7 linked regions of the Homo sapiens genome follow. The protein of the gene in region 2 purifies or fractionates together with the protein of the main gene of each other region. This does not show direct contact. Each region holds a gene or a part of one and is shown on either strand. Other genes may lie near its edges.

The links.
Region 1: the proteins of SLC39A5 (region 2) and ULBP1 purify together in Homo sapiens (affinity purification with mass spectrometry; 2 studies listed by BioGRID and IntAct, with this or other methods). This does not show direct contact.
Region 3: the proteins of SLC39A5 (region 2) and METTL9 purify together in Homo sapiens (affinity purification with mass spectrometry; 3 studies listed by BioGRID and IntAct, with this or other methods). This does not show direct contact.
Region 4: the proteins of SLC39A5 (region 2) and LRFN1 purify together in Homo sapiens (affinity purification with mass spectrometry; 3 studies listed by BioGRID and IntAct, with this or other methods). This does not show direct contact.
Region 5: the proteins of SLC39A5 (region 2) and PIP4P2 purify together in Homo sapiens (affinity purification with mass spectrometry; 3 studies listed by BioGRID and IntAct, with this or other methods). This does not show direct contact.
Region 6: the proteins of SLC39A5 (region 2) and ULBP3 purify together in Homo sapiens (affinity purification with mass spectrometry; 3 studies listed by BioGRID and IntAct, with this or other methods). This does not show direct contact.
Region 7: the proteins of SLC39A5 (region 2) and SLC25A51 purify together in Homo sapiens (affinity purification with mass spectrometry; 2 studies listed by BioGRID and IntAct, with this or other methods). This does not show direct contact.

What each region holds. Positions count from the first base shown.
Region 1 is NC_000006.12:149,962,652-149,966,742, reverse strand, and holds the start of ULBP1 (UL16-binding protein 1 isoform 1 precursor), read right to left. Parts: upstream 2,801-4,091; 5' UTR 2,694-2,800; coding exon 2,609-2,693; exon of another isoform or gene 1,261-2,608; intron 1-1,260. UniProt on the Homo sapiens protein: Binds and activates the KLRK1/NKG2D receptor, mediating natural killer cell cytotoxicity.
Region 2 is NC_000012.12:56,228,766-56,232,850, forward strand, and holds the start of SLC39A5 (zinc transporter ZIP5 precursor), read left to right. Parts: upstream 1-1,285; 5' UTR 1,286-1,357; intron 1,358-1,474; 5' UTR 1,475-1,530; intron 1,531-1,951; exon of another isoform or gene 1,952-2,065; 5' UTR 2,066-2,108; exon of another isoform or gene 2,109-2,135; intron 2,136-2,438; 5' UTR 2,439-2,509; coding exon 2,510-2,796; intron 2,797-3,923; coding exon 3,924-4,085. Other genes in the region: NABP2 (SOSS complex subunit B1), read left to right, coding at 249-448. UniProt on the Homo sapiens protein: Uniporter that transports zinc(2+) into polarized cells of enterocytes, pancreatic acinar and endoderm cells across the basolateral membrane and participates, notably, in zinc excretion from the intestine by the uptake of zinc from the blood into the intestine.
Region 3 is NC_000016.10:21,620,077-21,623,576, forward strand, and holds part of METTL9 (protein-L-histidine N-pros-methyltransferase isoform 1 precursor), read left to right. Parts: intron 1-3,500. UniProt on the Homo sapiens protein: Protein-histidine N-methyltransferase that specifically catalyzes 1-methylhistidine (pros-methylhistidine) methylation of target proteins.
Region 4 is NC_000019.10:39,318,064-39,322,005, reverse strand, and holds the start of LRFN1 (leucine-rich repeat and fibronectin type III domain-containing protein 1 precursor), read left to right. Parts: upstream 1-1,142; 5' UTR 1,143-1,213; exon of another isoform or gene 1,214-1,516; intron 1,517-3,647; 5' UTR 3,648-3,680; intron 3,681-3,942. UniProt on the Homo sapiens protein: Promotes neurite outgrowth in hippocampal neurons. Involved in the regulation and maintenance of excitatory synapses. Induces the clustering of excitatory postsynaptic proteins, including DLG4, DLGAP1, GRIA1 and GRIN1.
Region 5 is NC_000008.11:91,016,860-91,020,359, reverse strand, and holds part of PIP4P2 (type 2 phosphatidylinositol 4,5-bisphosphate 4-phosphatase), read left to right. Parts: intron 1-96; coding exon 97-203; intron 204-1,846; coding exon 1,847-1,970; intron 1,971-3,500. UniProt on the Homo sapiens protein: Catalyzes the hydrolysis of phosphatidylinositol-4,5-bisphosphate (PtdIns-4,5-P2) to phosphatidylinositol-4-phosphate (PtdIns-4-P).
Region 6 is NC_000006.12:150,063,338-150,066,121, reverse strand, and holds part of ULBP3 (UL16-binding protein 3 precursor), read left to right. Parts: coding exon 1-223; intron 224-448; coding exon 449-724; intron 725-1,408; coding exon 1,409-1,515; 3' UTR 1,516-1,537; intron 1,538-2,770; 3' UTR 2,771-2,784.
Region 7 is NC_000009.12:37,901,328-37,905,536, forward strand, and holds the start of SLC25A51 (mitochondrial nicotinamide adenine dinucleotide transporter SLC25A51), read right to left. Parts: upstream 2,801-4,209; 5' UTR 2,741-2,800; intron 2,231-2,740; exon of another isoform or gene 2,204-2,230; intron 1-2,203. UniProt on the Homo sapiens protein: Mitochondrial membrane carrier protein that mediates the import of NAD(+) into mitochondria. Mitochondrial NAD(+) is required for glycolysis and mitochondrial respiration.

The sequences.
Region 1 (4,091 bases), on a different chromosome or scaffold from region 2:
GAGGGCAGTGACCACACAGCCTCAGAGCTGCCCATCACAGGGTGGGCTCCTCACCCTTTAGGTCATTAGGAATATAGGCCCCACAGTGAGAAGACACAGGTGGGTCTCCTGGGATGGGCAGGAGCAGGGCCACAGGGAACCAAGAAGCTGCACAAGCAGTTGGCCCCGATCCCCAGGACACTACATGGCTGCACCCCCTCACCCTTAGCTCACACCTGAGGCTTTAAGGAGGGTCCCTGATTGCCCTGAGGGACCTATGATGCCACCCAGCAGCAAAGGAGGGGCGCAGTAGGCCCAGAACCATAGGACCTCCATTCACATCCATCACATCCACACCACCCAGAAGCCACAGGCAGGGTAGGACACACTTGTGACTCTTCAACTTACACTACTTGGAGATGACACCCTAGGGGATGGGGCAGCAATTGCCAGGACACAGCATGTGCCCTCATCTGGGGTCAGCAACCTAGGACAGGGTCCACATCTGCTCTCCCTTTTATTTGCAGGTTACCATTGCCTGCTGTTGCTCTACAAAGGGACAGGACTTGACACACAGACAGAGAACTCACGGCCAGCAAGGACCAAAGTGCCTTCAGCCTTTCCTTTCTAGAAAGGGTTTGCTGACTCCTGTCTGCTTAGTGACTATTCTATATGACCCTGGCTCCCCAGTCGGAAGAACAGGCGGGTCTGGGACCCAAGGGCAGAAGTGGGCACCTCTACTCACCGGCGCTCCCAGGGTCATCGTGAGGGAAATGGGATTTCCCGTCCCCCCTGCATTAAGTTTTGTGGAAAGCCTGGGGTGTGTTTGCTGGGGTGTGTCCTCAGGCAAAAGGGGACAAGGTGCTAGTTGGTCGGGGGAGGTGCTAAGGGCCCCTTCATGGATGGGGAGGTGAGGGAGGCCTGTGTGGTGACAGGGGTGAGCTGAGATGGGGAGTGAAAGGATGCGACCTGGGTGGTGAAAGTGAATGGTGAGGGGAAGGGTAGCAAGTGTCTGGTGAGCCCCTGCGTGCAGGTGAGTGTCTGCAGCAAAGTGTAGGGGCGAAGTTCCAGGGCAGGGAGCCCTGGGGCTGCTGGAAGCTTTGTGTGGTGAACAGCAGGTCAGAGCAGAGCAGGGCTGTGGCTGATGGGGGAGTCTGTGATCGCGTCCCTGTGGAACTCCCCTTTACCCCTGTCCTGACCCCAGCTAGGGTTCGGGAATCTGGTTTCTCCTTCCCTAGGGCCAGTGGGGCTGCGGGTCTGCACCAGGGATCCCCGCCCTACCTTGCCCTCTGTAGCCTTTTGGTCCCTCCACCCTCCTGCAATTCCTTTTCAGCCTTCTTTGACACTCCCCCTGGACTGCGGTGCTAGCAGCAGCTGCAGGAAGCGGACTCGGCGGAAAGGAGCCCCGGAGGGGAACTGAGTGCCTTCAGCCAGGCACGTTCGGGGAGACAGCGATGTTCGGGGAGACCGCGATGTTCTGGGGGATCGCGATGTTCGGGGAGACCGCGATGTTCGGGGAGGCCGCGATGTTCGGGTAGACCGCGATGTTCTGGGGGATCGCGATGTTCGGGGAGACCGCGATGTTCGGGGAGGCCGCGATGTTCTGGGGGATCGCGATGTTCGGGGAGACCGCGATGTTCGGGGAGGCCGCGATGTTCGGGTAGACCGCGATATTCGGGGAGATCGCGCTGGTCCACCCAGAAGCCTCCTGGCCTATGGGGCAAGCAGCAGCCGCAGGAAGCGGACCCGGAGGAAAGGAGCCGCGGAGGGGAACTGAGTGCCTTCAGCCGGGCATGTTCGGCGAGATCGCGATGTTCGGGGAGATCGCAATGTTTCGGGGGATCGCAATGTACGGGGAGACGGCGATGTTCGGGGGTACCGCGATGTTCGGGGGGACCGCGATGTTCGGGGAGACCGCGTTACTCGGGGGGACGGCGATGTTCGGGGGGGATCACGATGTTCGGAGGGATCGCGATGTTGGGGTAGAACGCGATGTTCGGGGGCATCGCGCCGGTGCTACCAGAAGCCTCCTGGCCTGCGGGGCAAGCAGCAGCCGCAGGAATCAGACCCGGCGGAAAGGAGCCGCGGAGGGGAACTGAGTGCCTTCAGCCGGGCATGTTCGGCGAGATCGCGATGTTCGGTGAGATGGCAATGTTCGGGGAGATCGCGATTTTCGGGGAGACCGCGATGTTCGGGGAGATCGCGTTGCTCGGAGAGAGGGCGATGTTCGGAGAGGCCGCGATGTTCGGGGAGACCACGATGTTCGGGGAGACAGCACCGGTCCTTCCAGAAACCTCCTGGCCTGAGGGGCAAGCAGCAGCCGCAGGAAGCGGACCCGGCGGAAAGGAGCCACCGAGGGGAACTGAGTGCCTTCAGCTGGGCATGTCTGGGGAGATCACGATGTTCGGGGAGATCGCGATGTTCGGGGAGACAGCGATGTTCGGGGGCACCGCGATGTTCGGGGAGACCGCGACGTTCGGAGGGACCGCGACGTTCGGGGAGACCGCGATGTTCGTTCAGGGAGATCGCGCCGGTCCTTCCAGAAGCCTCCCCTCCTCTGAAACCCGCTGCAGTCCACAACCTCCCAGGTTTGGCCCCCGCCCTGCTTAGGCTACATCCCCGAACTCACCGACCCATCCTGCCCGGGACCAGCCAGACAGCAGGTGCAGAAGCGGGAGGCACAGAAGGAACGCGGGGCTGGCGGCCGCTGCCATTGTAGACCTGGAGCTCCGTGGACAGGAGGCGCTGATGGTTCCCTTCGAGGCTCACACCACGGCTGTTTATAAAGCTGCCCAGCCCGGCCCGCCGCGCGCAGGGATACACTGGGCGGGATCCTAGGCATGCACTTTTTTGGGGATGCTCCACCCCGTCACGCCCCGGGCTCGTCATCTGACAGCGGCCTGGCTGACGCAACTCTCCCCTCCGACCCGCCCCCGCGGCTTGGTGGCGGCGTGCGCGGGCCCCGAGCGGGCCAGGACGCCGTTCCTTCCGTTCCTTCCATGGCCCCATCAAATAATTTTTCAACACAGCATTTATCATTACCCCAGTGTAAACACTGATGCACAGGAAGATGAAGAAACTTGCATAGGAATACTCAGTGGCGGCGGTGTCTCCCTGTCACCGCCTGCGCCAGCGACACCCGCCCTCCCTCCGCCTGCAGTCGCGAAGTCCCCGCCCCTCTCCGTCCAGGGCGCAGCCGCTTCCCCATTCCGGAGCGAACCTTTTTTGCCTCTCCACTAAAAGCATGAGGTGGTCTTTGAGTATATTCTATATCCCTTTATGACTTCTGGAAAAAAAAAAAAAGAAAAGAAAGAAAGCCCTAGAGGGCTACCGTGATCAATCATGATGTGATCAGTTGTGTTTCCATGGAGAGCAGAAGCCGAGGGAAGAGTCTACGCATGCGTGGGGCTCACTTTGCTACACACCCTTCTGTGTCTAACAACACCCAAATCCGTGGCTGTATCTGCACCTCGGCTCAGTCCCTGGATGGTCCCTGCAGCCATCCTCAAAAGGGACGCCCGAGTGCATCCTCCTCTGAGTCACCATGAAACCATCTAGATCTGCGGGTAGAAGCCAGAGGGAGGTGGAGGGCCCAGTGGCTCTTGGCCGCAAGGGAGGGCTTAGCCTGCAGTAAGGACTGGGCAGAGCCCCTGAGTCCCACTTTGCCCCCAGCCACTCAGCCCATTCCCCAATGAATGAGAAAAATAGGCACAGACCTCCCACTCCACACAGTCTTCATGTGGGGAGACCTTCACCTGGTGACCATCAATCACCAGGGTCCTGAGGCTGTGGGAAAGGGGAGGAGGCCTGGACCAAGCCCAGGGCCTGACTATGCTTCAGGACAGGGACATGGGATGGCAGCCATCTCTGTGACTGAGCAGGGACACAGGAGCCAAAAGGTTCTGGCCTGATGCACTAGAGCCTCTGTCCAGGAGGGGCTACATGAAGGGTGGTCGGCAGGACAACAGTCACACGGGGGTGGGCAGTTCTCAGATTTGGGAGGGGAATAGCTTGGTGGGCCCAGGGATCTGTGTGTGAGAAAAGCCTCCCATGTACAGGGCTGGGGGCAGGAGCTCAGGTTAGTCCTAGGAGGAGGCCACTGGGAAGTCCCT
Region 2 (4,085 bases):
AGATAACTACAAGAGAAAAATACCGTACCGAGGTTCATGTAGCAACTTCCTAAATGATCGTGTAAGTCTTCTCTGGAGCTCCATTCATACTCGCAGCCCACAGTCTTTTGCATTTGGTCCAGTTGGCATTAAGATGCAGTTGTGCATGGTGAAGACTGTGCCACTCTTTGGGGCATGGAGACAGGCCTTGGGATGGACCCCTCTCCTATGTTAACTAATTCCTTTGTTTCTTCTCCTCCCACAATTAGCCTCTGAGAACCAGAATGGGAATGGACTGAGTGCCCCACCAGGTCCCGGTGGTGGCCCACATCCCCCTCATACTCCCTCCCACCCACCCAGCACCCGAATCACTCGAAGCCAGCCCAACCACACACCTGCAGGCCCGCCTGGCCCTTCCAGCAACCCTGTTAGTAACGGCAAAGAAACCCGGAGGAGCAGCAAGAGATAGCATGACATTCTTTCTTCCTGCCACCAACCACATCCCAAGTGTCCCCTGGAGAGCAAGATAGCCTTCCACTGATTGGCTGGTGTAGCAGTATTTTAGCCACTGAACTTCAGTGGAGGGTGGTGAGCAGTGTCCTTATCCACCCTAATCTCATACTCCCTCATTGTCCAGCTGAACTACCTGTCCCCTGGGAGTCAGGACCCTCTGCCTGCTCTCTTTCCTCTTTAGAAATGGCAGTTACTGGCTGGGCGCAGTGGCTCACGCTTGTAATCCCAGCACTTTGGGAAGCCGAGGTGGGCGGATCACCTGAGGTCGGGAGTTCAAGACCAGCCTGACCAACATGGAGAAACCCCGTGTCTACTAAAAATACAGAATTAGCCAGGCATGGTGGCGTATGCCTGTAATCCCAGCTACTTAGGAGGCTGAGGCAGGAGAATCTCTTGAAACCGGGAGGCGGAGGTTGAGGTGAGCCGAAATTGCACCATTGCACTCCAGCCTGGGCAATAAGAGCGAAACTCCATCTCAAAAAAAAAAGAAAGAAAGAAAGAAAGAAAGAAAGAAATGGCAGTTACCATCTGTTTCTTCTGTGTGAGACATGGGAGTCTAACTGAAGTCTCTCCTTCCTAATAAATGTTACCACTCTACTCTGTGTTGGACTCCTTTGCTTTCTGTGGGAAAAGGAAGAGGTTAGCAACTAGGCATTTGGGAAGGTGGGGTGTCCCTAGAAGGTGGAAGGAAAATAGGTTACAGGTAAGGAGGCCCAGGCAAAGCAGACCTGCCCCTTTAAGGTAGTGTCCCTCCCCTACCCCCTCCCTGCAGGTGACCCTTGCCCGCCTGCCTGCCTGCCCCCCCAGCTGGAACCAAGAAGGTTGTGTCCCCCTTCCTCTGGGTGTCCTTGTCTCCTGCTATCAGGTAATGCCAACCTCAACCCCCTGGACCAGTCACCCCGATCAGACTTTGCTTGCCTGATTTTAGGCCAGGTCAGACATCAGAGGAGAGCCCAGATCCTTGTTTCCTCTCCCCCCGCAGGGCTTCCCCTTTCTTGGTCATCGATCCCTAGAGCTCTGGCTCTTTCTCTTCTTGGGGTGAGAAACTGCTAAGAACAGTTTATTTCCCATGCATGCATCTGGGCTTGCCACTGATCTGCCTTTTCCCCCCTCCTCCCCAGGTTAGGGACACCTGGGTCCAACCTTCCCAAGGAATATGGGGATGGGGGTTGGAGATGAAGTTTAGTGCTAGACTGTAAGGTAGGTGGGGTGGAAGTACATGAGGGAAAGGGCTAAAATGGTACTAATGGTGTTAAGGATAGGGTGAATTATTTAAGAGGAAAAAGACTAGGCCCAGGTTCTCCTTAGCCATGTGGCTTTCCCAGGGCAGAGGGTGGCCCCTCCCTACCCAGGGGCCCAGCAGAGACTGACTTTTGATCCCTACCCCAGAGACCAGTGAACCATTAACTCCTCTCTTATGTGAGCCTTCACACACTGGCCCCACCCCTGACCCCGCCCCAAGGCAGGTGGGCTAGGAGGGGGTGCATGTCCATCTCAGCCTTCTATGTGACGTGGCCTCCGATCCACCTGGACACCTGGAGGCTAAGCCTGGATTCCCCCTTCCCTGACTCAGGAACTGCTTAACGTCTACAGCAAGGCCTAATAGGGGACCTGAGGTGACAGCTCTTATGTTGCCAGTAGGGGTGAGGCCCTGGGGATTGAGGGGGGATAAAGAGGTGGGGCAAAGTTGAGGGGTGGGGTTTAGGGGACAAGGAATGGACGGTCAGCTCTGGATGAAGTATGAGGAGAGCTCTGACTCAGGGAGGTGCTCCAGGAACCAGCAAACAAGAGGCTGCTCCCGCAGGAGGCAGTGTGAAGGGAGAAAGAAGGCTGCAGTAGGGGCTGCTGCTGGACTCGGTGGGGAGCAGGTGCAAGGAGCTCTGGCTCCCCCATGGACCTGAGCTGGAGAGCAGAGCGCAGCTCCAGCCCATTCCTCATTCTTCCAGGGCACAGTCCTCAGGATGTTTCGGGGAGAATAGGAGCCAGAACCTGAGCCCCTAAGCTATTCCCCTCACCAATGATGGGGTCCCCAGTGAGTCATCTGCTGGCCGGCTTCTGTGTGTGGGTCGTCTTGGGCTGGGTAGGGGGCTCAGTCCCCAACCTGGGCCCTGCTGAGCAGGAGCAGAACCATTACCTGGCCCAGCTGTTTGGCCTGTACGGCGAGAATGGGACGCTGACTGCAGGGGGCTTGGCGCGGCTTCTCCACAGCCTGGGGCTAGGCCGAGTTCAGGGGCTTCGCCTGGGACAGCATGGGCCTCTGACTGGACGGGCTGCATCCCCAGCTGCAGACAATTCCACACACAGGTACTGACCCCTTCCTCCACTCCACAGGGCCACATCTCCCAGGTCCTCTCAGTGCTTGCCCCCAGTTGCCTCGTTCTGGCTTCCTCACGAGATCCCTGGAGTTACAAATTCTTCAGAACCGAGCTCCTTGGTATCTCTTCAAAACCTCTCATGCTTCTATTGCCTTCTCTCTCTTTTCTTGAGACTGGGGGTCTCGCTTTGTCACCCAGGCTAAAGTGCAGTGACACATTCACGGCTCACTGCAACCTCTGCTTCCCAGGCTGAAGCCATCCTCCCACCTCAGCCTCCTGAGCAGCTGGGACCATAGGCACACACCACCACAGCCGGCTAATTTTAAAAATTTTTTACAGAGACAAGGGTTTCGCTGTGTTGCCCAGGCTGGTCTCAAACTCCTGGGCTCAGCTCAGCGATCTGCCTGCCTCAGCTTCCCAAAGTGCTGGGACTACAGATGTGAACTACCACCCTAGCCCTCCGTTGCCTTCTAATTCTCTCCTCCTCCAAATCTCTAAGCCCTTAAATTTCTTGCTCTTAGTATCACTGTTCAGTGTCTCTGGGCTGATTTGGCTCCAAATTCGTAGACTTCTTTTTTCTTTTCTTTTCTTTTTTTTTTTTTTTTTTTTTTGAGACAGAGTCTCGCTCTGTCGCCCAGGCTGGAGTGCAGTGGTGTGATCTTGGCTCACTGTAACCTCTGCCTCCCCGGTTCAAGCGATTCTCCTGCCTCGGCCTCCTGAGTAGCTGGGATTACAGGCACACACCACCACGCCGGGCTAATTTTTGCAATTTTAGTAGAGACGGGGTTTCACCATTTTGGTCAGGCTGGTCTCGAACTTCCAACCTCAGGTGATCCACCCACCTCAGCCTCCCAAAGTGCTGGGATTACAGGCGTGAGCCACCGTGCCCAGCCATTCGTAGCCCTTTTGGTTGTCGTCCTTTTTTTTCTGTCCCCCCCAGTGGCAGAAAATGGACAACTCACAGATCTTCCTAAGAATGACATTCCATGGTTTCTGGGTCCCAGGATCTCCAGTCAGTGGCTAGTCCCCCCATTCCCCCTAAAATCCCTGGGAGCCTCTCAAAGCGGGTTGATAGAGAACACAAGGGAGGCTGACTTGCTGTCTCATCCATTCCAGGCCACAGAACCCTGAGCTGAGTGTGGATGTCTGGGCAGGGATGCCTCTGGGTCCCTCAGGGTGGGGTGACCTGGAAGAGTCAAAGGCCCCTCACCTACCCCGTGGGCCAGCCCCCTCGGGCCTGGACCTCCTTCACAGGCTTCTGTTGCTGGACCACTCATT
Region 3 (3,500 bases), on a different chromosome or scaffold from region 2:
ATAGGTATAGTCTCTGGTGTAATCAGGCACAGCTACGCCTTAGAAGTTGAGTTACAGCTTAGGGAGATCGACCTTCCTAGCTTGAACTGTTTAAGTCCTTATCACTGTCAGTGTTTAAATTGCTGTTAGGGTTGTTATAGGAAGAGACATAAGGAAGGTGTGAGTTTGAACTGAGTGATTTGAAAGCCCCTTAGCTTTAGCAAGCTGTCTCAGATAAGGTTCTGGTGGGTCTGCATGGTGATAATTGACATGTTTTCCTTCAGTTAGAGATTAATTCGGCATTTCAAAACTTAGAATGCTTTGACCTTTGTTATAACAGTGGCTTAAGTCAGGCTGAATTCCTAATCTGATTCCACCTCCCCCCCTTAAAAAAATCCATGCTTTGAAGTGGGTCGAAGAGGAAGGTGTTAAACCCATCTTCAGATGATTGACCGCCCCAGCCTTCTTTTGCTTTGATGCTAAGTGCCTAAATGGAATTTTCAGGGAAACTTCAGATGTTTGAAATTAGTAATATATCTGGAGTGTACATGGTATGTAAAGATATCTACCACATAAAAAATACTTGGTTTAATTTTTTCCCTAATATACAGCACATAAGCCAAAAATCTGCAGTTTGACCTGCATGGGAAATTCATACTGATTGGCATTCCTTTCATAATATTAGTATGAAGTGAAAACATTTTCACAAAAGTGGTAAATTTTGTGACTATTGGTGCAGTTTGAGGTTTTAATGAGGAAGTAGTATCTTTATTTCCTAAGATTAGAGGTCACCCAATCCAAGATGGCAAGGCAGACTTTCAGCTGAATTTTACATTTTTTTCTTCCTTTTGAGATTAGAGCTATTTTCTATTTCTCTTCAATATCTGGGCCATGAAAAACAGGCTTTTTATTAATTTATATATATATATTTTTAGAGACGGGTCTCTCTCTGTCACCTGGGCTAGAGCATGTGGCGTGATTATAGCTCACTGTAGCCTTGAACTTCCGGGCTCAAGTGATCCTCTCACCTCAGCCTCCTCAGTAGCTGGGACTACAGGTGCCTGCTACCATATCTGGCTAATTTGAGAGAGAGAGTGTGTGTGTGTGTGTGTGTGTGTGTTTTTGTGTGTTGTGTGTGTAGAGACAGGAGTTTCATTATGTTGACCAGGCCAGTCTTGAACTCCTGGCCTCAAACAGTCCTCCTGCCTTGGCTTCCCAGAGTGCTGAGATTACAGGCATGAGCAAAACACACCTTTTTAAATAAAGGTTCTGTAATTTTTTTTTTTTTTGAGACAAAGTCTCGCTCCATCACCAGGCTGGAGTGCAGTGGCACAATCTCAGCTCACTGCAACCTCTACCTCCCAGGTTCAAGTGATTAGCCTGCCTCAGCCTCCCAAGTAGCTGGGATTACAGGCGCATGCCGCCACACCCAGCTAAATTTTTTGTATTTTAGCAGAGATAAGGTTTCACTGTGTTGCCCAGGCTGGTCTCGAACTCCTGAACTCAGGCAATCCGCCCGCCTTGGCCTCCCAAAGTGCTGGGATTATAGGTGTGAGTCACTGCGCCCAGCCAAAGTTTCTGCATTTCAAAAATAGGTCAATAAACAGAAAATGGCCAGGTTTTTCCTTTGTATTCGCAAGTTGTCATTGTTTATGCCAGAAAACCCAATTGTAAAACTAAAGGATGTGGTTTTGATTTTTACAGCAAGACAGTTTTCTTTATATTGTTAGTGTTTCATTTTTTATTTAGGAATTATCAAAATACAGATTGCTTATTTCCTAAGTTTAGAGCTCTCCCAACCCGAGATGGCAAGGCATCTTTTTTTTTGGGAGACGGAATCTCTCCCTGTTGCCCAGGCTGGAGTGCAGTGGTGCCATCTCGGCTTACTGTGCAGCCTCCGCCTCAGCCTCCCGAGTAGCTGGGACTACAGGCGCATGCTGCCACGCCCAGCTAAGTTTTTGTATTTTAGTAGAGATGGGGTTTCACTGTGTTGCCCAGCTGGTCTTGAACTCCTGAGCTCAGGCAATCTGCCCGCTTTGGCCTCCCAAAGTGCTAGGATTATAGGTGTGAGCCACCATGCCTGGCCTTTTTTTTTTTTTTTTTTTTTGAGACAGGATCTTGCTTTGTCGTCCAGGCTGGAGTGCAGTGACACAATCATAGCTCACTGTAACCTCAAACTCTTGTGTTCAAGCCATCCTCCTGCCTCAGCTGCCCAAGTAGCTTAGCTAGGACTACAGGTGTGTGCCACCATCCTTGGCTATTTTTAATTTTTTATAGAGATGGGGTCTTGTTGTGTTGCCCCAGCTGGTCTCAAACTCCTAGGCTCAAGCGATCCTCCCAAAGTGCTGGAATTACAGATGTTAGCTACTGCACCTGACTGCTTTATCATTCTCTAAGGAGAAATATATTTTACATCCTTCTGGAAGTATTAACTCATTTTCTTGAAAATAATAATCACTTGAATAGATACCCTCATTCTAGGTTTAGAAATACTGTTTTAGAAAAAGGAAAATTCTGACAACTTGTTAGGATTCCTGGGCTAATACGCAGTTTTAGTGGGGCTAAGCAATTTGTCTTCATCAGTGGAACTGAGTGAGTTTACAAATAAAAATCACAAAACAGAAGTAAGAATGCACTTGAGCTTCTATAGGTATAGATTTAACTGTCTTAGTGTTAGTCACCTTTTTGTGTTATGAGCATATATTTCTCTTCCAAAATTACCAACACAGAGGCTACCTATCTGAAACTCATTCTGAGGTAGGTTTAGTGAGATTATTCTAGATTAGAACATGCTGATGATGTTTGGCTTCTGCTTCATTGCAGATAGACATCAGATTTTTTTTGTTGTTTTGTTTTTAAAAATCAAATATATAATTTGTGTTTTACAATTTGTGTCTTTAAATTGGCTGCTTAGCTAAGGCGTTAATATATACAAATAGTCCTTTCTTTATTCATTTCCATTTTTTAGAATGGGAATTGATGACATTTTTGTTCTGAAAGTAGTCTTCTTAGTAATGTTTGGAAACTCTTGGAATGAGCTAAATTGAATTTCCAAAATTGCTATTACAGTTGACTTAGTACAACAAAGTGATTTTAAAGCCTGAATGCTCTACTTATTTCAAACAGTATTTAGTGCAATGAAACACCTGCACCAGTAAGGAATCTGACTAGTCCCTGGAAGTTTGTTAGGCTGCTATTTGGAAGAGGCTTTAGTTTGACAAAAATATAGATTGAAAAGAAAATGCAGCTAAGTGCTTTGTGTTTTTAAAATTCTGCTATTCAGAAATGCTCTAAATATCATTATGCTAATGAGGTTTTCAAAACAACCCTCATTATACTTTTAGAATTTTCTGAGCTATCTTACTGTATCTGCTCAACATTACTAAAGACTTGTTTACCAAAGATCCTTTTTTTATGTTTCCTTTTTTACCTGTCTCTATCATAACATATCTCACCTACCACATTCTGATTGGTATAACCAAGCAGGAGTAAGTAATTTGTAAAATTGCCTAATTGTGTGG
Region 4 (3,942 bases), on a different chromosome or scaffold from region 2:
TAGGAAGGAGCAAGGCATTCTGGGCTCTATGGAAGTCACAGGGAGGGGGGACTTTCAGGGTCCAAGAGAAAGAACTGGAGCAAGAAGGAGGCAGGGTCCTCAAGGGGGCAGGACTAGTAGGGGGTGGGAAAAAATTGGGGCTAATTGGGGAGTTTTGGAAACCAAAGGATGTCTTGGAGGAGAAGGAGAGAGAAAGGTGTAAGGTCAAAGGGGTGGAAGATGGTTTGGGGTCTAATGGGGTTCATGGGGAAAGTTTAAGGGTCTTCCATAGGGATAAGAGACATTTTAGGGCCCCCTAGAAGTTAGGCATGGTTTGGAGTTCATACTGGGGGTAAGGGAATGGGTTAGGGTCCTTGAGGGTAGAAGGACATGGCTGGGGGTCCCCAAGAAGGAGTGGAATATGATTTGTGGTTCTGGTGGCTGTAGAATGTGGTTTGGGTCCCCAAAGGGAGTCAGGCACCATCTGGGATTTGGCTGACATATGGTCTGAAGTCTCCCCCGATGTTAGGGTATGATTTGGGGTCCGTGAGGGAAGGGGTGTGGTCTGGGGGTCTATCTGAATGTTGGGATATGATTTAGGGTTGCTGGTGGGGTGGTCTGGATCCCCTTGGATGCTGGGATATGATCTGGGATTCTTCTGGGTTTGGGGGCATGGTCTGGGGTTCCTGACAGTGTGTGGGTCATAGTCTGAGGTCAAGCAGGAGAGCAGGGCATGATTTGTGGTCCTGGGTGGCCCTAGAACATCGCCTGGGTTCTCAAAAGAGGTGAGGCCTGATCCGAGGTCCCCCTGGGTATTAGGACGTGATGGGAGGTCTCTGTAGGGAGATCCGGGGTCCCTAGGCCAGTTGGGGCGTGGTCTGGGGGGGTCTCCGGGGAGGCCGGCGGGGCTGGGGGTGGGGCTGGGGAAGGGTCGGGGGCGGGCCCGCGGCGGCTCGGCAGTGGAGAGGGGTCTGCGGCGGGTTCGGGGCGGGGATCCCGGGTGTGCGACCGCCCCGCCCGGCCGCCCCCACCAGTCGGCGCCCCCTCCCCCCTTGCGGCGGCGGTGGCGGCGGGCGGCGCGGAGGGCGGAGCTCGGCTGCGGCTCGGGAGGGAGGGCGGGAGGCGGGAGGGAGGCGGCCCCGCGGCACCGCGCCCCCTCCCCCGGCCCTCCCCCCACCATGGCGCGGAGCGAGGCAGCGGCGGCGGGGCCGGGCCCGGGGCCCCCCCGGGCTGGGTGAGCGCGGCCTGCAGCGGCCCGGGAGCGGCGGGCGGGGGCGCGGGTGTGTGCGCGGGTGTGAGCGTGCGAGCGTGCGAGTGTGTGTCCGTGGCGCTGCGGCGGGCCCGGCGTGCGCCCGCGCGGCCCTATGTGTGCCCGGTGCCGGCGTGTGCGGCGCCCTGCCCGTGTGGCCATCGGGTGTGCGCGGGGTGTCGAGCCCGGCCGGCGTGTCCGGCTGTGCACGCGTGTCCCCCCGAGCGGCCGCCCCTCCGGCTGTGTGTCTGGGCGCTGTCGCGCGCCCATCGGAGGGGCTGTGTGCAGGTGTGTGTGTGCGTGGGTTGTGTGCCCAGGTGTGGGTCCCCCCCAAGCCCATGTGCGTGCGCGACTAGCTGCTCTGGGTGTTTGTGTCCGGGTTGGATGTCCATCCCCGGGTCTGTGGAGCCGGGTGTGCCCGCTCGGGTGTCCATTTGTGTGTGTGTGTGTGTGTGTGTGTGTGTGTGTGTGTCTGCGGGTTGTATGTCTCCGAGGGTGTGTATCTGTGAGTCCACGGCAGGTTGCTGGCTTGGGGGCTGAGGCTCGGCGCCCAGGCCTCGGTGTGGATTTGGGGGAGGGGAGTTCGCCGCTCCCTCGGTCCATGTCAACTGGGGGGTCCTTAGCGGTCCTGGGGGAAGCGGCCATGTCTTCCCCTTCCCGGTGGTTGCGGGGGGGGGATGGGCGGCCAGGAGGTGGACAGATGGAGGGGGGATGAGAGGCCGAGAAATGGACAGATGGGCCCTGAGGTGGGGGTTGGGGGGCGAAGACCCGGCCCTTCCCCACCCACTCCACCCTAATTCCCCCACCGGCCAGACATCTGCAGACGGAGCCAGAGTTACCTCCATCCTGATGGCCAGGCTGGGGAACCTTTGGGGCTGCTGGTGGGAGGATCTCCTTGAAACGGTGATCTAGGACTCAAACCCCCAAATCCTCTTGAGTTTCCACCTGCTGAACTCTGACCTCTGGCCTGGCTTTTGCCCTGGTTTTTTGGGGGTGTGGAGGGCAGGATGCTGAATGTGCTGCAGGGATGTTAGGATTTCTTGGGCCTGGGAAGTAAGTAGGTGGGGTGGTGGGGGGGTGCCTCAGGGCTGGGAGGAATGTGTGTCCAAGACTGTGTGAGTGTGAATCTGGGCCTGTCTACTGACTGTGCTACTGTGGTTCAGTATTTTCTATGCATTTGGAAGTGTGTAAATCACAGGACTGTTGTGTGAGCATGTGTCTGTTATGAGTGAACATCTTGGCGTGTCTGCAAAGGTGGATCTTTTTGTGCCTGTGTGCGTGTTCCAGTGTGGATCAGCCTCGTATCTGTATGCTTGTGGTTTTGTGTGTGTGTGTGTGTGTGTGAGGTATGTATCTGTTAGCGTGGTGCTGTATCAACTTTGCAACATGGAGATGTGTGAAGTATGAGTGTGTCTAGGCATTTAAGAGTGTGCACTTGTGTATGTTTGCACAGGTGTGTGTGTGTTTGTTAGATGTGTGTGCCCCTGTGTGCTGGTGAGTGTGCAAGGTAGATCTGTTGTAAATGCATGTACCTGGTTGTCTGTTAGGGGGCACATGAGTTTCTCTGTTGTATCTGTGCATTTGTGTGTGTGAACTTGCATGGCAGAGTCAGTGTTGTACATGTATTGTTGCATGCAGGTGTGTCAACCTTGAGGGTATGTATCCATCTATGTTGTGAGTCTGTTTGTGTTTTGGTGTTGGTCTCTGGGGGTTGTGTATGTTCAGACATGTATGTGAAAGACACATGTGTCTGTGCCCTGGCACAAGGCTGTCCCTACTCTTGGGTTCAGTGGGTTTGAGGCCCATGTGGCATGACCTCTGGTATACTGGGGTCCCGCCTGGGGTCCCTGGACACAGTGTGTCCATATGCCAGGCCAAGTGCCCATAGAGGGCGGAGGGCACACAGATCATGTTGCTATGTTCATAGAAATCCAGATGTAGAGACTTGGGTTGTGGGCTTGCGTGGGTTCTGACATGGACACACATGTTGGTGTGGGCAATAGTATCATGGCAAGGATGGGAAACTTTGGCCCTTCCCCAGCTCTTGGTACCGTTCAGGACTTTGGAGTTGAGGGGCTGGGATGTAAACTCTTGGGTTCTAATGGAGGGCCAGAGGTCTGGTCTGGACTCTTGGGTCAGAGGGAAGAGGGGGCTGGGGTTCTTGGCTCCTGAAACCCCAGAGGACAAAGGGCTAAAGTCCTCGACTCCTGGGCTTTGGAGGGTGAACAACCCTGAGGCCTAATCTAGGATTCCAGAGAGGACTTCTGGGTTCCTGTGAGACTATGCAAAACCCGCCACAGGAGGACTGAGAGCGTGATCACACCAGGGACTTCCTTGGCCGGGATGGTCTCCAAGGCAAGATCTGGTGCACAGAGAAGAGCCAGAACGATGCTAACAAGGTGGTTCTGTTCCTTTGCAGGTGCTGGCCCAGGCCCTGACTCCCTGAAGAGAGGTGAGTAGAGCCGTAAGGCTTCAGAGAGAGAGAGACATGGGGGGTGATGGGGCTTGCTGTCAGCCAGCTGGGGGTCTGGAACCCTGCCTCGCATGGATTTCAGTTCAGGGGATGACAGTTTCCTGAAGGACCAGTTGCCCACCACTCTGTCCAAGGCTGGGGAGTGGTGACAAGGTCAGGAACATCAAAGTTGGGTGAGGGCTTGTGGTGGCCAGGTGGCTCTGGGGAGCAGGTGGGGGGTTTCAGGCCAAGAGACATTCAT
Region 5 (3,500 bases), on a different chromosome or scaffold from region 2:
AGTTTTAATGGAATCCTTTCCTTTTTAAACACAAACAAACTTTGACAATCTGTACTTTGGTTAATTGCTGTGTTTGCATTTTCTTCCCTTATCCAGCCAATCAAAAACCCCCCAACAGGCAAGAAATATGTTAGATGCCCTTGTAATTGTCTTCTCATTTGTAAGGACACATCTCGGCGAATAGGATGCCCAAGACCCAACTGGTAAGAGATAAAGATTAATTCATTGATTCATTCATTTGTTCATTCAACAAGTATTTACTAAAGGTTCTTCAGTGCCAGGCTTTGTTCTAGAAAGAGTTTTTGTTTTCAAAGTCATTCCAGAATCTAGATTATTTTTTTGTTAAAGGAATGATAAGCTTAGTTTGAACTTAGTCATAGATATTTGTAGGATATAATATTCTTAAATGAGCAATGAATGTTTTCTTTGTGTTATGTAAGTACTTAATGCACTGTAATAAATCAATGACACATTGAACGTATTTAAAAATAATGAGGTCAGGCCAGTGGTTCATGCCTGTATTCCTAGCAATTTGGGAGGCTGAGGTGGGAGGATTGCCTGAAGCTGGTAGTTTGAGACCAAACTGAGCAACATAGTGAGACCCCATCTCTACAAAAAATTAGCCAGGTGTGACAGCATGCACCTATATTCCCAGTTACTTGGGAGACTGAGGCAGGAGTATCATTTGGGCCTAGGGATTAAAGCCTTCAATGAGCTATGACTGTGCCTCTGCACTCCAGCCTGGGCAACAGAGTGAGACCCCATCTGTTAGTCTCTCTCTTTTTTTTTTTTTTTGAGACAGAGTCTCAACGGGAAGAGTCTCAAAAGAGTTGGCTCACTGTGACCTCTACCTTCTGCCCTGAAAGCCTTCCCACTATAGCCTCCTCCTGAGTAGCTGGGACTACAAGCACACACCACCACTCCCAGGTAATATATTTTTTTTTTTTTTTTTTTTTTTTTTTTTGTAGAGACAGGGTTTCACCATATTGCCCGGGCTGTCTTGAACTCCTGGGTTCAAGTGATCCCAAAGTGCTGGGATTACAGGCATGAGCCACCATGCCTGGCCCATCTCTTAAAAAAAAAAAAGTAATCACTTAGTTTACTTTTGATATAATTAATCTTCACCTGCAAGTGTTTTAGTTATTTTTGTGTATCTCACTGTATATTATACTAATCTCTGCTGAATGTATATGTGCAATAAATTCTGGAATTATTCGCTCATGCCCAGTACCATTATGGATGTCCCCAGATACAAGTATATAAAGGCCTTACTTGTGTTTTTTTTCTGTGATCTCTCTAGCTTTTTGACCATTACATGAATCATGTACAGCCCTATCCAATGATAGACTAGAGAATAGAAATGAAAGCAGGATCCTGTTTGCTTTCTTTTCATCTCTGATTAAATACGCATCAAGGAATATCACACTGCTCAGAGAAATTTGGTTGTAACCCAGCCCTTCGGTGCCTTCATGGCACAGAGATTTTTGTTGGTATAGAATATTTTTAACTTAGTCTTCTACCAAACTCAAGTTGGCTTCCTAGATAAGGAAGGGTAACAACTGTTTTCTGATTTGAACTTACAAAAACTTGGAAATGACAGTTAAATGGTTGCCATTGATTAGGACCAATGCTATAATATATTGTTTCTATCCCAAGTACAGACTCATATTTTGCTTTTGAAAAACTGACTGTTGCTACTCTTTGTAGTTTTGCCTCCAGCTTGACATTTAATTCACTTAATTTATGAAACAAGTATAGCACATTTCATATTTTTGGCCATATGTTGCAGGTTTTGCTCTCAGTCCATTTGTGGGATAGTGAAGTTGTTTCCTTTCTCTTTTCACAGTAGACGGATAATTAACCTTGGCCCAGTAATGCTTATTTCTGAAGAACAACCAGCTCAGCCTGCATTGCCAATCCAACCAGAAGGTACAAGGGTCGTGTGTGGGCACTGTGGAAACACATTCCTGGTAAGTCACTGGACATTTGTCATTAATCTGTAAATATAGGTCATGATCTTACAGATTAGAGCACTGCTCATAGTCTTATAGTTTTGTCCAAATGCAAATTAATCAAAATATTAAAATAGAGACTTATTTAGGCAGACAATCAGAAGTGCAACTAGGATATAGAGCATCTTCTGTGAACTAGATAAAAGGTACGTCCTCTGATAAGTCCAGTTGCAAAAAGGATCCTCTCTATGTAGGCCAATGAGAAATCGTGCCCAGGCTTAGTTCCATGAGTATCTTGGCTTGGGGAGCAGCTGAGTCTTAGCCCTGCTCTCACCTGCTCAGCAGAGGTCAAAGTGCACAATCTCATGCAGTAGATTTGCTTCATGGCTTCTAGATTGAGGAAAAATTTGAATAATAATTTATCAAAAATTTTCTGACTTTTATAAATTATTCTTGGAGCAAAGGGAATTAACACTGTTACCCATAATTAGATAAAACCATTAGATAAAGAATAAGAAAGTATAAGTAATTTGATATGAGCAAAAGTTATAAAAGTTTTTGTTTTACTACTTCTAACTTAAACTTAGTTTGATTTTTTTTAAAGTTAAATTCATAATTAACTTACCCTGTCAGGAAGGATAAGGACAGGTTTTCTTTTATTGTTCAGCCCATATAGGAGACAAACATTTTCTTTAGAACTTGAATATGAAAAATATTTATCAGAGTATACACATGGGAGTCTAAACAAAACCTGCTGTCACTAAGACATGAATGAGCTTAAGAAAATATAAGTGGTTTGCTTTTTTTTATTTGTAATTTTACTTTTATTAAAGAACTTTATGTATATAGTTCTAAATGTCAAATGGGACTGCAATCTTCTCATCTAGCTGACCCCTAGTTACTGTTCCCAAAATGCTTTCAACTCTTTCAGCTACTTTATTGATAGTCACTTCTATGTGTTTATTTTTTATAATTTTTAAATTTTTATTTATTTATTCATTTATTTTTTGAGATGAAGTCTCACTCCGTCGCCCAGGCTGGAGTACAGTGGCGTGATCTCAGCTCACTGCAACCCCTGCCTCCCGGGTTCAAGCAATTCTCCTGCCACAGCCTCCCAAGTAGCTGGGATTATAGGTGCACACCACCACACCTGGCTAATTTTTGTATTTTTAGTACAGATGGGGTTACATAATGTTGGCCAGACTTCTATGTGTTTAAATTGCTTATCCTTTTTCTATTTGATTAAGCAATTTTAGACATTACCCACTAAATAGTAAACTGCAAAATGAGAACTTAGCACTTATACTGCCCTCCCACTCATATTCCTTTCCTTGCTTTCATACTCCCAGTCAAATTGCAACATTTTGTTTAATTAATACTTAGTGTTTACAATTTTTATGATTAGGTAAATTTTGTTCACAGCTGAACCAAGCAATGTGGTACATTTTTCTTGTGCATGCATTTTAACATTTTCTTGGACTTACAAATAATTGCCCCCTCCTTTGGATTTAATTTTCTATGTGTAAATCATTCATTCTTCTCATATTC
Region 6 (2,784 bases), on a different chromosome or scaffold from region 2:
CCCAGACATGGGCAACAGTGGTGTGAGGTCCAGAGCCAGGTGGATCAGAAGAATTTTCTCTCCTATGACTGTGGCAGTGACAAGGTCTTATCTATGGGTCACCTAGAAGAGCAGCTGTATGCCACAGATGCCTGGGGAAAACAACTGGAAATGCTGAGAGAGGTGGGGCAGAGGCTCAGACTGGAACTGGCTGACACTGAGCTGGAGGATTTCACACCCAGTGGTGAGTGAAAGAGACCAAGGACAGAAGGGAGCAGACTGTGGGCTCAGGGGCTGTTCTGTGTGTGGGGAGAAGAAATTAGACATGGGACCTCCATGAAGCCCAGCAGCAAGGGCAGGACTTGGAGGAGACAACAGGACCAGATGAGAATGGTCTCAGCATAGGAGGATGTGGGACAGGGAAGAGAATTTGTAAACACCAGGGCTGATCTCTTTCTGATTGGGGCAGGACCCCTCACGCTGCAGGTCAGGATGTCTTGTGAGTGTGAAGCCGATGGATACATCCGTGGATCTTGGCAGTTCAGCTTCGATGGACGGAAGTTCCTCCTCTTTGACTCAAACAACAGAAAGTGGACAGTGGTTCACGCTGGAGCCAGGCGGATGAAAGAGAAGTGGGAGAAGGATAGCGGACTGACCACCTTCTTCAAGATGGTCTCAATGAGAGACTGCAAGAGCTGGCTTAGGGACTTCCTGATGCACAGGAAGAAGAGGCTGGAACCCACAGGTAACTGACAGGGGAGCACTGGGAGCATGTTGGAGATGCCATCGAGTTACACCCTTGTCTGTCAGTGTCTGAGTATGGTGGGTGTGGGTGTATGGGTGTGAGTGGGTGTGAGTCTATGTATGTGTGAGTGTGAGTGTGTGTTTGAGTGAGTGTAAGAACATGAACCCCTCATGGGGGCCTCCTCCTTGGGGTGCCTATGCTCTCCCTCCTGACTCCTCTTCCTCACTGCACTTGCTTTTGCTCCACTCACTGTGGATTTCTCACCAGCCTCAAAACTGTGGGCGTCATTGTGTTTCTAGACCTTTCTCCTTAGATTTCCCTCCTCCTAGGATCACTTTTCCTTTCCTCTCCCTTGGTTTGTTTCTGGAAATCCATCAAAACCACCTCGAATGGCAGCCCCGAGACTCTCCTGTCCCGGCCCTAGGGCATCACCTCCTCTTCCGCCACAGCAGGAGGGTGGGCTGTGCTGTCACCTTGCTTCCCTCAGCAGCTGTGTGAGCTCCCTGAGGACAGGGAGCACCCCTTCTCCCTTCCTACCCCCAGGACCTGTCACAGCGGCTGCCCCACAGCAGGGGAGACAAATCCTCTGCCTTCCCGGATGACCTGGGGTAGCAGGAGCTAAGGAGCCATCTCCTCAGATTTGGAGCGTGGACAAGAGTTGTCACTTTTGTGTTTCCCTTTCAGCACCACCCACCATGGCCCCAGGCTTAGCTCAACCCAAAGCCATAGCCACCACCCTCAGTCCCTGGAGCTTCCTCATCATCCTCTGCTTCATCCTCCCTGGCATCTGAGAAGAGTCATTTAGAGTGACAGGTACTGTGGGCAAAACTGTGAGGGGAACGAGAGACAGATGGGTGAGGTGGGAGGAAGGGAAAGGAGAATTTCCAGAGTCCCACCTCTCCCCATGGCCGGGACCTTCTCGTTCTGACATGAGACAGGTGAATGAGACCTGGTGTCGCCTGTTTGCAATGACCTGGGCAGCTCAACCTTGAGTTCTGATGGATTCTCACCATCAGGGCCAGAGGGAAAGGGAGGGACCCATATCAAGGCTCAGGGCCGGTTGAGTTCAAGAGGGTTTAGACAGTTCAGGCCTATTTCACAGCAGGTTTCTATCTGGGAAGGGTAGTGGTGTGTGGCCTGCAGGCAGCAGGAACTCAGGCATGGGCAGTCTGCACAGTAGGAGAGGAGTAGCATGGCCACTTCACCAAGGATGTCAAGGGAAGGGGTGTCCCTGGAGGAGGCTAAGAAGAGAGAAACCTGGGGGAATCCCAGGACGAGGGGGCTGTGAGGGCCTTGGCCCACCCAGTTCCTAAGGCTGCATTCCCAGAGAGAGCACCTTGAGTCCCAGCAGTTAAGGTGGAAGGTGAAGAGTAGAGCGTGTCCAGGATGAGGTTTAGGAAATGGCCGAGCCCCTTGGACCCATGGGATTCCTGGCTAGGCCCTGGGACGATGCCACTGCCATTCTGCCTCGTGCACACTCCAGATCCTGAGCCAGCTGATGGCCCTGCCTGGAGCAGAGTGGACTCAGCTAGGGCAGCTGAGCTGCTGCTAGAGGTCCGTGGTCACCACTGAGCTTGGCCAGGAATGAATGGGGCAGGGCAGGGACAGTCCCATTCAGAGCTATGGGTGCAGCTCCCAGGGTGAGGAGAGGCTGAGAGCGAAGGAGAAAGAAGGTTTGCCTACAAACCCACCCAAGGCCAGGGAACATGGATCCAGAGACCTCTCTTTGGACAGGGCTCCCCCAGGTCCTCTAGACCCTTCTATGAAAGGGAGGAGCAGGCCCTGAGTGAGGGTGCAGACCCCTCATTACCAGCCTCAGGTCTGAGCCCCTATGGGCTGTAACAGGACCTGGGCTGCCTCTGTGGTGTGGTGAAGGAGGGTGGAGGTTGGGAAAGGCTGCACAGCCAGGGGTAGGGTTGGAGGGAAAAACATGTTCCTTATCTGGGGGAGAAGCTCTGAAATGGGGAGGGCCTGGGAAGGATCACCCAGGAGAACAGACCCAGGTTTTTCTCAGCCACTTAAACCAATGCTTCATCTTTCCTCAAGGTGGAAGGTGATAT
Region 7 (4,209 bases), on a different chromosome or scaffold from region 2:
CGGCTAATTTCTGTATTTTTAGTGGAGACGGGGTTTCACTATGTTAGCCAGGCTGGTCTCAAACTCCTGAGCTCAAGTGATCCAGCCTGCCTTGGCCTCCCAAAGTGCTGGGATTACAGGTGTGAGCCACTGTGCCTGGCTTATTTTCTTGTAATTCTTAAGTGAGACAACTATTTTTATCCTTTATTTCATAACTTGACTGTTTAAGGCTGTGTACTTTTCTTTGAGCAAAACTCTTATTACTATTTAAGAGAGTTGGCATTTTGTCTTAACTATGCTTGCTAGTAAGTGTCCCAAAATCTTCAGTGAGTCTAGTGTTGTTATTCACAGTAAAAATAAGATTAAAGGGAAAAAAAAGGTTCCAGAATATCATCTGTTCCCTCTCTCCTCTCCCTTTCTTAATGTACAGAGTTTTGGGGCTTAATATGATTAACTTCAAGATATGTTCTAGACACTGAAGTCTGTTAGGGTATTGAGTTTGATAATTATTAGTTCTACTACATCCTTACTTTTTACTGATTCAGCTGATAGGTATGAGTTAAAAACTCTTATTAGTACACTTACAAGCTAAGATTAATCAATATTTGAAGTCCTAAAACTTAGTCTAGAAATGCTTGATACCTATGTAATGCTTTGCACTTCTTCAGTTTCAGAATTAAACAATGTTAAATCAACAAGAATATTTAGATTAATGTACATGATTACATGATATTGTGACAATTTATGAATGTCAAAACCATTTTATTTTTACATACGGAGCACACAAAATATTTTAAATTCTAAAGTCACCACCTACAAGCTGTTTACACATGCTCCTTGACAGTACAAGCCAAGTTATTTGTGTACTTGAACAACAATAAAAATTTTGTCCATGTTCACTTTTACTGGAATGTTACTTGTATTACTTTCTGAAATTTTGCAAATAAAGGTTAGTTTATTTATGACTCTGTGTGAGAATGGGGACTGTTATTAAACAAGCAGAAAACTACAGCTAACAGAAGTTAACCATTTATTGACCACCATATCCAACTATTTTAAGAACATTACTGTACATTGAGATTCTCAGATTTAAAAAATAGGCCTAGATGGGGGAAAAAATGTTATGAAACCCTCCTGGACTTTACAGATTTAAAGCTTTTTCTCTAGTTTAATCCTACACACCAGGATGGTGTGAATATGTTCTTAATTTAGCAATAGAAGGATAATGTGCACAGCATTATTTGGTAGTACAGTTTAGACTTTTGCATGTTTACCTATACTGTGAACATGGTTAAATTTCTTTGCTAAACTGATCTTTATATTTTTATTCATTAATGTGGATAATTCTTTGCAATTTATTGCAAAATTTATTTACCATAACTTTACGCTTGTTTGCTACGTAAAACTATCTCATCATAAGGGAGCAGTTAATGAACTTGATTTTCAAGCAACTACAAGTGTCAAGCTTCTGTGACTAAGAAAACAGTGTAAAGTCTAAAACCTTATTATAATTTACAGCCTACATGGATCAGCATGATACAGATATGATCCTAGCACAAAGGTCTCTGCAAAAACTGGGGAGAGGGTGACTCCAATTCTCAAAGGATGTGAATTTCCACTAGTCAGCAGGTCTGAGTCAGCATTCAGAACAAGATCAGCCTGGGTCTAGTCCTAGTTACGACACTAGCTTGCCAATATAAAGACAAAGCAATATCTGATTTTAAAATCCACTGATCTGAGTTTGCTTTCATTTACCAAACGAGAGATCAGATGAGTCAACTCCTAGCTTGTTTTCCCCTGAGATGCGCTAAGGGTGATTCCAGTTCCAAAGCGGTAACCTGTGCTCTAAACCACTATGGGACCTCAAGAGTCCTAGCACCTTTTGATCCTATGGAATCCTTTCAAAGCACGGGCAGAGGCGGCTCAAAATGGCAAGGTCACTATACATTTCAAGGGCTTCTGTTTCAGAGATTACAAGTAGAGAAAAACAGAAGGTGGGAATTAAGATCAGCTAGGTAGAGCTGTGAGATGCAAAACAAAGGTTTTGCAGGAAGTTGAGGTGCTGACATACTCCATCTAGCTAAACTGAACACCAAATAATGGATGGAGACTAACACCACCAACACCATCGTCCCCGAAAATCCTTGTACAAGTGAGCTTCCTACAACGCGATGCAATATGCTGTCGCAGAACAAGCACTGCCAGGCTATGTAGCTGAACTTACCGTTCTCCAGGCGTCCATTTCCCCAACCTGTGAAAGGCGGGGAGGGGGTTGGACAAGATCACTAAGTCCTCTTCCGTTTCTGACACTTCACAGTCAGGGGTCCCGAGGTGAGGCCGAAATCCCAGTCTCCCGGGACGCAGAGGCCCTTGCGCGGTGCCATCCCCGCTGTCCCCCGGGCGCAGGCAGCTCCCGGCTCCTCCCCGCCCCTGCGGTTCCTGTGCACCAGGGAGGTGCCTCCCCAGCCCAGGGCGCGCCCGAATGAAGGGACAGCGCCTTCGCGGGAAAGGTCGCCCAGCAGCCGGACAAACACCCGCGGCAGGCGGGGGAGCCCGGAGCCGAGGAGGCTCAGAACTGATTCCGCCCGCGCCGCCTGGGTGGGGCCCGCAGGGACCGGGCCAGGGCAGCCGGAGCGCGCAGAAGACAGGGATGGGCCCCCAGGGCGGCAGCCTGCCCCAGCGGGCCCTTCAGCGCGTTTCCCCTCCCTCCAACCTCATGCGAAGAAAGCCCGGTGCTTCCCCACGCTCGTCCCACACTCACCCATCAGCGCCGGCGTCCCGCAGGACGGCTAGCGAGCCGGGGCCCGCGCAGGCGCAGACTGTGACCGACCCCGAGGTTGGGGCGCAGCGCGACGCGCTGGGCGCTGTTGGGGTCACGTGAGGGAGACACCGCCCCGCCCCGCCTCCCCTCCCTCGGCCCGCGGCCCGCCAGATGTCGCCAGCCTACTTCTCCTGGCCGCAGGCCGCCGCGGCGGGGCAGGTAGAGGGCCACGCCAGCACACCTGTCAGGATGCGGGCTCCGCTAGCCACCATGCTTCACCCTTGATGCCGTACGGTGGCCTCAGCGTGCCAGAAACAGCCAACGCGTTCTCTAGCGCGCTGCCTGCAGGGGGCGTCTGGGCATTGTCGGTTTTAGGGGCCTTGTCGGTTCTGCGGGGCGAGCGCCTTCGCGGAAAACTCCAAAGTACCCTCTGTGGAGCCTTGTTGAGTATCTTCAAACCTTCAGAGGGACCTTTTATCAGCGACCCATGCCGCAGTTTACAGAAGAACGCTTTGTGCGTGCTTTGGGACGTATGGATCACTTTTAAACTTTTTCCTTTGAAGCTCAGACAGCTTGCGGGGGGCTTGGGAGGAGCGCTGCCCGGGGAGTTAGAAGGCTTGGGTCAAAGTCATAGCCCTCATACTTCTTGAGAGTGACCTTGGGTGAGTCGCTGGACCCTGAGCCCCAAATCTCCGTCTGAAAAGTAACCCATGCCTTGTATGCGTCCTCGGGCTGTTGCAGGAGTCTTTGGAAATGATGGTTCTGACTCTGAGTTGGAAACTGGAACGCACACAACAGATGGGAGGCGTTGAAGGAAACAGAAAGGTCGGCCTGAGGGGAGAGGCGTTTCAGGAGGCTTGCGGATGTGTGAAGTGTGCGCACTGTGCTTGGGGCGAGCCCAAGCAGTAACCCCACCCGAGTGAAGCGTTCTTGGGGGGATCGGCTCCGGGTGGGCGACGTTCCCCGCGTGCCCCCTTCCCCCGAGAGCACTTTGTAGACACTGACTCCAAAAGCGGGTCTGGTCTCTGCCCAGCCCCACTTTGGCTGGCGTGCTTAGGTGCCTCTCGGGAAGCTGGAGACCACCCTCCCCCATTCCAGCAAACGCTCCATTGAGGAACCTACTGCGTGCCAGGTCCTGGGGAGCTTAGCGTCTGATGAAGGATACAACAACAAAAGACTGGAAATTCAGAAGCATGAGGGGACCTCCCCCCTCGAGGGAGAACCAGAGATGGCTTCACAGAGCAGACGTTTGAACTGGGCCTTGGAGGATGGATGAGTGGAATTTGGCCCAGTGGAGAAAGTCATAGCAGCAGGAGATAAGATTGTAAGGGTCAGGTGGTGGGGCTGGATAATGCGAATCTTGACTGTCAGACACAGACACCTGCCATCTAATTAGTACGCGAGGGATAAATTTTGGACTCCGCAGGATAAGGACAAGGCTACACAATGGCTTAGAACAGTTAATCGGG